2 separate regions of the Homo sapiens genome follow, and region 2 is linked to region 1. Evidence: fine-mapped expression QTL. Tissue or cell type: blood mononuclear cells. Region 1 holds a variant in brackets; the other region holds the start of a gene. All regions are shown on one strand. Distances are from middle to middle.

Region 1 (5,153 bases):
CCATAAAGAGGAGGTGTTCTATTTCCCTTCATGGTGGTACTTTATATTAGGTAATAAAAAATGATTTTAAAACAAAACCAAACATTAGAAAACATGCTCCTATCTAAAAAATAATAATGAAAAAAAAAAGCAACAAAAATCATGCTCCCTCCACCAAAAAAAACTCACCAATATACTAACACATTCTAAAGCACTACTGAAGTAAACAAGGAAGCACAGGACAGGAGTCTGTTTAAAGAGTGCCTGAATACAGGACTCCTGCTTTTACTTTTTTTTTTTGAGATGGAGTTTTTCGCTCTTGTCCCCCACTCTGGAGTGCAACAGTGCAATATCGGCTCACTGCAACCTCTGCCTCCCGGGTTTGAGCAATTCTCCTGCCTCAGCCACCGGAGTAGCTGGGATTACAGGCACATGCCATCATGCCTGACTAATTTTTGTATTTTTAGTAGAGACAAGGTTTCACCATGTTGAGCAGGCTGGTGTCAAACTCCTGACCTCAAGTGATCCGCCTACCTAGGCCTCCCAAAGTGCTAGGATTACAGGCGTGAGCCACCGCAATCCACTAGGATGACTTTTTTAAAAAGAAATCACTAAGTACTTTTAAAGTTTATACAACTTAGTAACAAACTATCTAAACTTTTAAAAGAAATTTAACAGCTATCACTGAATTAATTCTCCTACAACTAAGCTAAGTTTATTTGTTAAAAAGCACACTCAAGAAATACATCTTGAATACCTAGTATATAACAGGGATAAAGCTGTGAACAAAACAGGTAAGAATCACTCTTCACATGGAGTTTTACATTCTAGTGGGAAAAGAAATTCCACTGTAATGGCTTTCAGAAGTTCCAAAGACAAGATCAGCAAATCAACCAAGCACACGGAAAGACCATACATTTAACAGTACCTTTCTAAAAGGACTAAAATTTGGGAAGCATGACAGACTTGCCTTACAGCTAATGGGGTAGCTGGCTCAACCTTCGGCTTTTGCTTTTGGACAGCTTCTTCTTCGTGCTTACTTTTCCAACCAAGCCAACCACTGAAAAGAAAGAAAACTTAGAATATAAAACTGAGCTTCCAGGGTTTTAAAGTGCAAACTATCAAAATATAAGTTAAAAGCAAGCTAGATACAAATGAGATATTTGTTATTTTAATTGTTAAGTAATTACCTGGCAGCATTAAATAAAGCAGAAGTGAGTTTACTTGCAACTGCTAGTGCAACATGGGATAATAATGGTTGTGTGCTTCCCTGAAAAACAGAACATTTGAAAGAGAAAACTTAGTAGCTTACAAAGAAACAAACATACTTTCTAAATAAAGCTTACTTTAAAATGCTTTGAAAAGTTGTAAAGGCTGGACTAGCAACTCAGCTTCTTTCAGAGTACAGTAAAAAGTTTATTTTAGGCGTAATATGAGAAAAAGTTTTAACTCTATAGTTTAAAAATAAAATCACAATTAGTCTATTTTACCATTAGAATTTCTCTCTTTAAATTGTAATTTCATTCAAATAAATTTTAAACTAGGACATTAAGATTACATTATTCTAGCTGGACTATGGATTTCACACCTACACATAACTGGCTCCTTTCTCTCTTTAAATATATATATATGCACACACATATACACACACACATTTTTATAAAAGTAAAAAGATATTTTGGACAATTCTGAGAAGCATGCTTTTTAAGTGAGAAACAAGAGCTGCCAAATCTAACACTCAACTTTCCACTATTTTAGGAAGCAATTTTCACCACTTATAACAAGTATAGTTGGCAGCTTGTTCTGTCTTTACAACTCCTCATTTACTCAAATCCCTAGTGGGCTGGCATCATTAACAAGCCTGAGCTCCTGACTATTGCACCAATATTTAAAGACATCTCAGCTATCAAAGAACTCAGGGCTTCAGAAACAAAGAATTTCCTTTTATACTGATGGTAGTACCTTTTCAGTTAATCTAAAGAATTTAGAAGAAAGCTAGTTGAGATTAATTTTAGTTTCAATTGAAATTTAGAAATGTAAACTGCTTAATCTTCTAAGGCTAAGCAAGTTACCATATCCAATTTGTAGACAAATTGTAAAATCAAGAGCAGCCTTACTCATGATCATTGATAAAACTCATACCTCTAAAGCATAGAAGAAGCCAGTAAATGGATTGGACCCTACAGTGATATACTGAGACATGGCAGGTGGACTATTTTTAATTGCTGCATTAAATCCACCTATATTGGAGGCAGTCTTCATTTGATCAAAGGGGGACAGAGTCATAATACCTAA[TA/T]AAAAAAAAAAAGTGATTTGAATGTACAATGTTATTGCGGTCATTACATTTTTACTTCAGTTCCATTCTAAGATGCTAAATGTTTAGTTTTATTTAATAACCAAAAGTCATTTTAAAAGCTACAAAGTCAACATCAGAAAATATTCTGCCAGGCATGGTGGCTCACTCCTATAATCCCAGCACTCCGGAGGCCAAGGCAGTTGGATCACTTGAGGTCAAGAGTTTGAAATCAGCCTGGCCAACATGGTGAAACCCCGCCTCTACTAAATATACAAAAATTAGCCATGCATGGTGGTGGGTGCCTGTAATCTTAGCTACTTGGGAGGCTGGGGCAGGAGAATTGCTTGAACCTGGGAGGTGGAGGTTGCAGTAAGCTGAGGTCACACCAACTGCACTCCAGCCTGGGCAACAGGGCGAGACCCCATCTCAAAAAAATAATAATAATAAATATTAAAATTTCCATCTATAATTTCCATAATCTATAGAATATCATAAAAACAAAATTTAATTTTTTGAACAGATATGAAACTCAGAGGTACCAGAAGTATACAGTCCACTTATATCCCCAAATACCAATTCACTTCTTTTTTTTTTAGTTTTTGAGATGGCGTCTCACCCTGTCGCCCAGGCTGGAGTGCAATGGTGCAATCTCAGCTCACTGCAACCTCTGCCTCCCAGGTTCAAGCGATTCTCTTGCCTCAGCCTCCCCGAATGGCTGGGATTACAGACGCGCACCACCATGCCCAGCTAATTTTTGTATTTTTAGTAGAGACGAAGTTTTGCCATGTTGGCCAGGCTGGTCTCAAACTCCTGACCTCAGGTGATCCTCCAGCCTCAGCCTCCCAAAGTGTTGGGATTACCGGTGTGAGCCACTGTGCCCAGCCAATATAGGCGTGTGCTGCTGTGCCTGACCTTACTAAATTTCATATACATATATTTCAGGCCTCCCCTTTGCCTGAAAACTGTCAAAAAATGCATTCGTCCTTAAGACGTGTCCTAGGAAAGGAAATTCTTTGAGTGAGTTCATACGCAAGCCATTCACTGGCTTTATAGGAATTAAAGTGATCAAACAAATCCTTGGACTATTTTTTAAACTCCCCTCCCACCTCCTAGACCATTATAAAAGATCAGAACACCTATCTCATAGTCATGAATGAATCCATGATTCAGTATACAAAATGTTTTCACTACATTACAAAATTTGCTTAAGTTTTGCCTGACTCCACCAAAACACGATCAAAGGGCAAACTATATGGCACATAAATTGAAATTTAAGTTTTAAAACAGCTTCTTTTTAAACTCCCATGCAATATACATGGGAGTATAAATTACTACACAGTAATCCAGAGGACAATTTTGCAATAGATATGCAATTTTTTTAAAGGATTCTAATTTATTGTAAGGAAATGGCTGATCAATCCTTTCCATCCTTGCTACCAATGATGTTTTCCTTCCTATAACTTAAATCATCTATTTTCAATGTCACACTTTAGATCCTGTCATCAGCAACTGTAGATTCTTTGTATTTTTGATTTCAAGCTTACCACACTTAGACCACCACCTCCTAGCTTTCCATCTCAATTACTCCAGAAACTCCCTGCAGTAATTTCACAATTTCGAGTTTAAACTAATTAATCCTACTATTTTTTCCACTATTTATCAAGTACCTCTTGGGATCACTTCCCTTTCCATCCAGCTTAGCTTTGTGTTCCATCATCATCACTTTCTTGCAAATATCCACAACCTCCCTACACTCGTTTCCCCCTACACACATACTCCTCTGGCTAAATCTTAATCTTGGTTGACCTAAACTTTCTGCATTCTCTGCTCTTGAAGCAAAATAGCTGATCATTGCTAAGAAAAACAATACCTCTGGGTTTCAAAGTAAGAACCACAAACAAATGGACATAAAGCTTGGTCCAAAATCCTTCTGACCTCCTCAACCCTTCCTTCCCATCCTCGATCCTTTGAAATCTATTTGTTGAAGCAACAAGGCTGTTTGAGACTAATTTCCCACAGTCTACAGCTGACCACATTCCTATAGTATTATTTAAAGTGTTTTTCTGCCCTTTATATTGCTACACATTGGTACTGAATTTAGGGGGCTTTTATCTTTCGAGTCACTGATTTTAGCACTATTTTTCATTAACTTAAGGTGGTATGGCTTATTTACATCTCTCTTTCTCGCCCTATATCCTTCCAAAATATTTGTATCTCAACGTTTTATTAAATTCACTGTTTTTATTATTAGGAATGATATAAGCATTACTCACTGCTGAGACATGCTACTTACTGTAATTACATTTCCTTGGCTGTGCATTCTTTTTTTTCTGGAGTTATTATTACCTTGTCATTTAGAATTTTCCCTGAGCGTCTGAGGCCTTCCCACACTTTGAAAGACATCAAAGTCCCTCTCAATATAAGTTTCCATAAAGTCAAACTCATTGGATAATTTTCTAGGCCTAGTAGAGTGACTAATGAAGGCCTCTTTGACAATGTGATATATAAGGAGACCTGAGTGAAGAGAGGGAGAAAGCCATGTGACTAGCTAAAGTTTTCCAGGCAGAGGGAGCAGTAATTCTAAATGCTCTAGAGTAGGAATATGCTTGCTGTGTCTGAGGAACACAAAGGAGATCTACATGATGAAACACAATGAACAGGGAGGGGAACCCTACAGGAGACAGTGTCAGAGGTACCATAAGCCAGATAAAGTTGGGCCTTGTATGTCACGGTAAGGAGCAACCAGAAGAAGAAAGATGATGTAGAAAAAAAAAGGAGGAGCAAGTTTGACAGGAGGAAATTACTCGATTTTGGATATGTTAAGTTTGACATCTAGGTAGAAATTATTCAGTAGGGAGCTGGAGAAATGAGTATGAGG
Region 2 (5,153 bases), 75 kb after region 1:
AAGGTCAGGAGTTCAAGACCAGCCTGGCCAACATAGTGAAACCCCATCTCTACTAAAAATACAAACATTAGCCGGGCATGGTGGCGCATGCCTGTAGTCCCAGCTACTCAGGAGGCTGAGGCAGAAGAATTACTTGAACCCAGGAGGTGGAGGTTGTAGTAAGCTGAGATCATGCCACTGCACTCCAGCTTGGGCAACAGAGTGAGACTTCATCTCAAAAAAAAAGGCAATGTTGTGATCTAAATTATGCCTTAAAAGCTCACTGTAACTACTGTTGAGAATTATTACAGGAAACCAAGAGCAAAAGCAGGAAGAATTGCTAGAAGAAGACACATATCATATCATAGCCCAGGTTGAGAAAAGATGGTGGCCTGGACCAGGAGAGTGGTAGAAGGATAAAGAAAATCTGTTCCTTTTTTCTACATTCCCTATCTACAATCCTGCATCTGCTATCCTTCACAGCCAAGCTCCTTGAAATAGTATATTTCACTTTTTAACCCCTTATCCTATAACTATGCTTTCTGCCTCCACTATCCTACTGAAACTGTCCTAAGGTCCAAGTTACCTCCACCTTCTCAAAACCAATAAGCATTTTTCTATCCTTTTCTTACCTGACCCCTGCTGCATTTGCAAAACTGCTGACCATTCCTCACCCTCATCAAGTTCTCGCCTTCCTCAGCTCCGAGGGCCTTACTCTCACATGATTTTCCTCTTTCTTTTACTCCTTCTCAGTCTTCTTCCCAGTAACCTCTACTTGACTTTTAAACACCAGTGCTCCTCTAAGCTTACAGCTTTAGTACTCAGTGCATTTCACAACATACATAATCCTTGAGACTGAACTGACACTTTTTGCTGTTAGCTCCCCAATTAACATCTCTGGCCCAGTACTCCCTACTGTTTAGACTATCTATATCTGGTGTTCAACCAGATGTCCTTACTTGGACATACCATAAACATTTAAAATGCAAAAGGTTGAAAATCTGTATCCTTCATTCTCTTATTACATATAGTTGCCCAAACCACAAGCCAAAGACTTCCTAAACTCCCCCTCACTTACTAGTTACAATGCCCATCACCAGACCTTCACAAGGTCCTGCAGATTCTAACTCCTTAACGTCTTTCTAATCTAGTCCTTCATCTTCATCCTACTAAGGTTCTTAATTCAAGCTCACATAATTTCTTGCTTGGATTACTGGAAGAGCTTCCCAATCCATTTCCCTTCTTCCAATCTCTCCTCCACTTTGCTACCAGAGCACATTACAGGTCTTCAACAAATGTTGTTGATTACATTAAGTACAAATCTGACAATGTCATTTCTCTACTTAAACTTTCAGAGAAACGCCACAATTTTCACAAGGCCTCTCATGGTCTAGCTCCTTATTACTACTACTGCCTCATTGCCCCAACTCTTCCTCTCCCATCCTCCTCTCCAGCCATTCAGCTTTTCTTAGTTCTCTAAATACCATGCCATTTCAGGCCTCCCTTCCTCTGCACATGCTATTACTGCTCCTTTACTCCTCTAACTAGTACTTCAAAGGTAGGCTTAAGTATCACCACTTCAAGAAAATGCCTCATGTATATCTCAGTCACACTGAATGGAAGTTAATGATTTGTCTGTAAACCAGAAGTTCCTACAGCAGGGTCCACCAACCTTATTTGGTTTGTAGCACCAATGACTGGCACAAAGTATGCAATCATTCACAGATGGGTTCGATTTGATATCTTCTAAATTTTCTAAAAAAGGGAGAGGAGCTTAGTGGGCTTTATATCACCATTCCGGTATAGCACAAAGTGAGAGCGCTGTACTACAAAGCCAAATGTGCTTCAGGTTGGAAATGCAAAAATAAAATAAAATAAAATAAAATAAAATAAAACACAAGGCACACCCTTTCAAAATGAAATGTACGAAATTCTGAAAGCCTATATAGTATCTAATAAACCAGCCTTGGAACTTTATACTACTTGGGGAAAGGCTTATTAAACACTTTGATGATAAAAATAGGTGGAAGGCTTCAATAAAGCAAATTAACCTTTCTTGGCTATGTCACTGTAATTTTAGTTCCTAATGTAGATTCTCGTTCACTTCCTGACAGGTTATTTTCCTTCTTTGAGAGAGTCTTACCTCAAGAGTCACTCATTTGTCAGCCATTTGTTCTCAAAATCTGAATGGGGGAAATGCAGATGAAAGAAGGGAGAGTGTGGGGGGATGATCAACACTTTCGGAATGGGAGGTAGCAGAAGGCCACAGTCTCCGGGATGGAAGAGAGTGGGAGCTGGGGCAATACCAGAGTGGAGCGCTGACATGTGGCAAGGAACGGGGAGGATGCGATCACGGAGCAGGCAACATGAAACAGGGAACGACCCCAGGCTGAAGATGGGAGACGGAGAAGATACTCAGAGAGAAAGCTAGGAATGTGTGGGGGTGGGGGGAGGGAGGGAGAAAGCGGTGATAGGCAGAGGCGAGAGGAAACAAGACGCAGTTTTTAGCCAGGGGTCAGAGGGCCTAAGGAGAAAAGCTGGGTCGAGAGGAAGACAACACAAATGGGGCTTCAGGACGAGGTGGGCAGGGTGTCATCCCGGAGCGGAGGGGAGGCACGGGGAGAACTGGGGGTCCAGAGGGCAGAGGCAGGAGGCGCAGAGCGAGTAGGAGACTCGAACCCGTGAGCAGAGGCCGCGGGTGACGAGGGAAGGAAGGGCGAGGCCAGAGAGGCACTTACTGGGGTCCCTCCGCAAGGCGCCGCTGAGGATCTCCTCCCGCAGGTGAGGAAAGAGGAAGTCCCGGGCGGCCTGGAGGTCCTGGAAGTAGCAGAACTGGACAATGGAGCAGGCCATGGCTCCAGGGAACCCCACTACGGCACTCACCTTACCTCACCACGCCCTGCCCCCTCCACCCCACTGCGGCCGCCACCGAGCCCCAATAGCTCTAGCCAAGCAGAAGGCGGAGAAACCAAACCGGAAGCTGTCACTGACACGGGTCCGCTGTCTCCGAGTACTGCGCAGGCGCAGGCTGGCCCAGGCGCCTAGGGCGCGGGGGCCCGGGTCACGTGACTACGGCGCCGCCGCTGCAGGTGGAGCCAAAGTCGACGTGGAGGCTTGGGGCAGATTTTTCAGTCCCAGTTGTGTGTCTACGCCGAGGCATGAACCCTTTCATTCATTCTGGCTTTTAGCCAGAGGTGTTCTAATTGGACTTGTCCGCGCAGCCCTTTGACTTATTCAGTCTTATTGGTCCCCTACTATTGGCACGATCCTGATGTTTCACAGAAACTAATTCGTTTTAAACTAGTGGCAGGCCAGTGGGGGACCGTATCCTGCAAGAGTCGGATTTTGAAAAGATTAATTGCTCTTCCGGAGATTAGCCCCGTCAAGGCTGGCTTTAAATGCTCCTACTATAGATTCCCATAGTACTACGCAAGCCCAATATAGTACGTGTTATAGTGTATTATACACTTTTGTTTTCATTATTCATTTGGTTTTTCATTCATGCATTCATCCATCCATTCAACAAATATTTGTTAGTCTTTTAAATGCCAGCCACGCAGGGTGCTGAGCATTAGAGAACAAAAGAGAAGAAGTACCTTTTCCCAGAAAGCTGGAATTCTAGTGACTGATACAGGCAGTAAGCAATTAATTACAGTATTTCCCTTTAATCCAAGGGGATATGTTTTAAGATCCCCAGTGGATGACTCAAACCATGGATAGTACTGAAACCTATGTATGTGTATTATGTTTTTACCTATACATATATATGATAAAGTTAAATTTATAAATTAGGCACAGTGAAAGATTAACAATAACTAATAATTAAATTGAATAATTATGTGGAAAATGAACCCATGGATAAAGGGGGGACTACTGTACTTAACTATTTAACTGAAATTGTGATCATGCTAGTAAGTGCTTCATAAATATTTGCTGAAGAAATAAATGGAATGCATACATAAAGTAAATAGAATAACTTGTTTCTTTGACAAAGCACTATTTTTGAAAGTACTTTACATTGTTCATTTGGATAGTCACAAATGCCATCTAAAAATAGTGTGTCTTATCCCATTTTTAAAATAAAGAAATTGAGCTGTCTCTGAGCAGACTTTAAGTTATTTTTCCAAAAAATAAAAACAAAAAAAATTATTTTAATGTGAGCACAAAGGCCTGTAGGCACTTACACATTTCCTAAAGGAAACCTAAAGAGGCCATCCACTTTGTATGAAAAAAGGGCACAGGAACAAATGAAAGGCAAGTGGATGGGGTCCAGAGCATTCATTTCTGTCAGGCCCGTGGACATACACACTTAGTCCTAATAATATAACAACTATAATTTAGTGCCCAGGTTCCTACTCCATTATTTCCTACTTCTAGAGTAGGATGATTTTCACAAAATAGGATAGGCAATTTCTATGTTATCAGGTTAACAGGAATCAGTTCTTCACCTATAAAAGGCAGTTGAATCAGATGTGCTGTAAGGTCCCTTTAAGCATCAGGGACCTATACTTCTGTAATCAAAGCTTTCAGAAAAAGCAAGCTGCCAGTGCTCCCTTCTTCCATCTGAAGAAATGCAGTGTTTCCTCAGATCATCACTAACTAGAATAATCCAGCCCTGATAAGATTATTCCCTAAAATCCAGCACCAATCCCAAACTAAACCAAAATTTAAATTTAGATTCTTAGTGTTACTGGACGAATAACAAACACATGACACTTTCTGGAAGGAGACTGTCATTCCTTGAAAACCATTCAAGTTCCTATTCAGGTAAATGCATTTTGTGGAAGTAACTGCTGTTGGCTGATTTTGCTGGCCTTTGTTCTTCCCTGAGGCATTCATATGTCTCCTGTGGTGGTCATTGAATTTCATTACTGTGTTGGCTCAGTTTTAATGGTGAAGTCCCTGACTTCCTTCCAAGTACTGTTGAAAAGGATCATTCATGGATGTTTTTAAGGACTTTAGATACCCTTCACAGAAATTACAACACATTCATGAACTGAACTCTTCCCCCAGGAAGTTGTAATGCAACAGGGGGGGATGCCTCTGGAGTTCTGCTACCATGGTTTCTGCGGCATGTGGGAGGATTGCATCAGACAGTGAATATCACTTATTCCACAGTCATAAGAAAGCACATTGCAAAAATGTGCAGGCCTTACATATCCCAGCATTGACAG

What was found. PIP is the estimated chance that this variant, and not a neighbour inherited with it, causes the effect.
Region 2: it holds the start of RAB3GAP2, and the variant in region 1 is fine-mapped to the expression of RAB3GAP2 in blood mononuclear cells (TOPMed, PIP 0.97).

Annotation. Positions count from the first base shown.
Region 1 is chr1:220,194,129-220,199,281 of GRCh38, forward strand. RAB3GAP2 (RAB3 GTPase activating non-catalytic protein subunit 2) reads right to left here. Exons shown (of 35, transcript NM_012414.4): 10 at 2,122-2,270; 11 at 1,170-1,249; 12 at 950-1,039. Among named protein-coding and RNA genes, the nearest start is that of MIR664A, 3.9 kb to the right of the region's middle. The variant TA/T (reference allele first, on the strand shown) is at 2,275.
Region 2 is chr1:220,269,506-220,274,658 of GRCh38, forward strand. It overlaps RAB3GAP2 (RAB3 GTPase activating non-catalytic protein subunit 2), which reads right to left and starts at 2,948. Exons shown (of 35, transcript NM_012414.4): 1 at 2,718-2,948. The coding sequence starts at 2,832. RefSeq lists an enhancer at 1,042-1,543.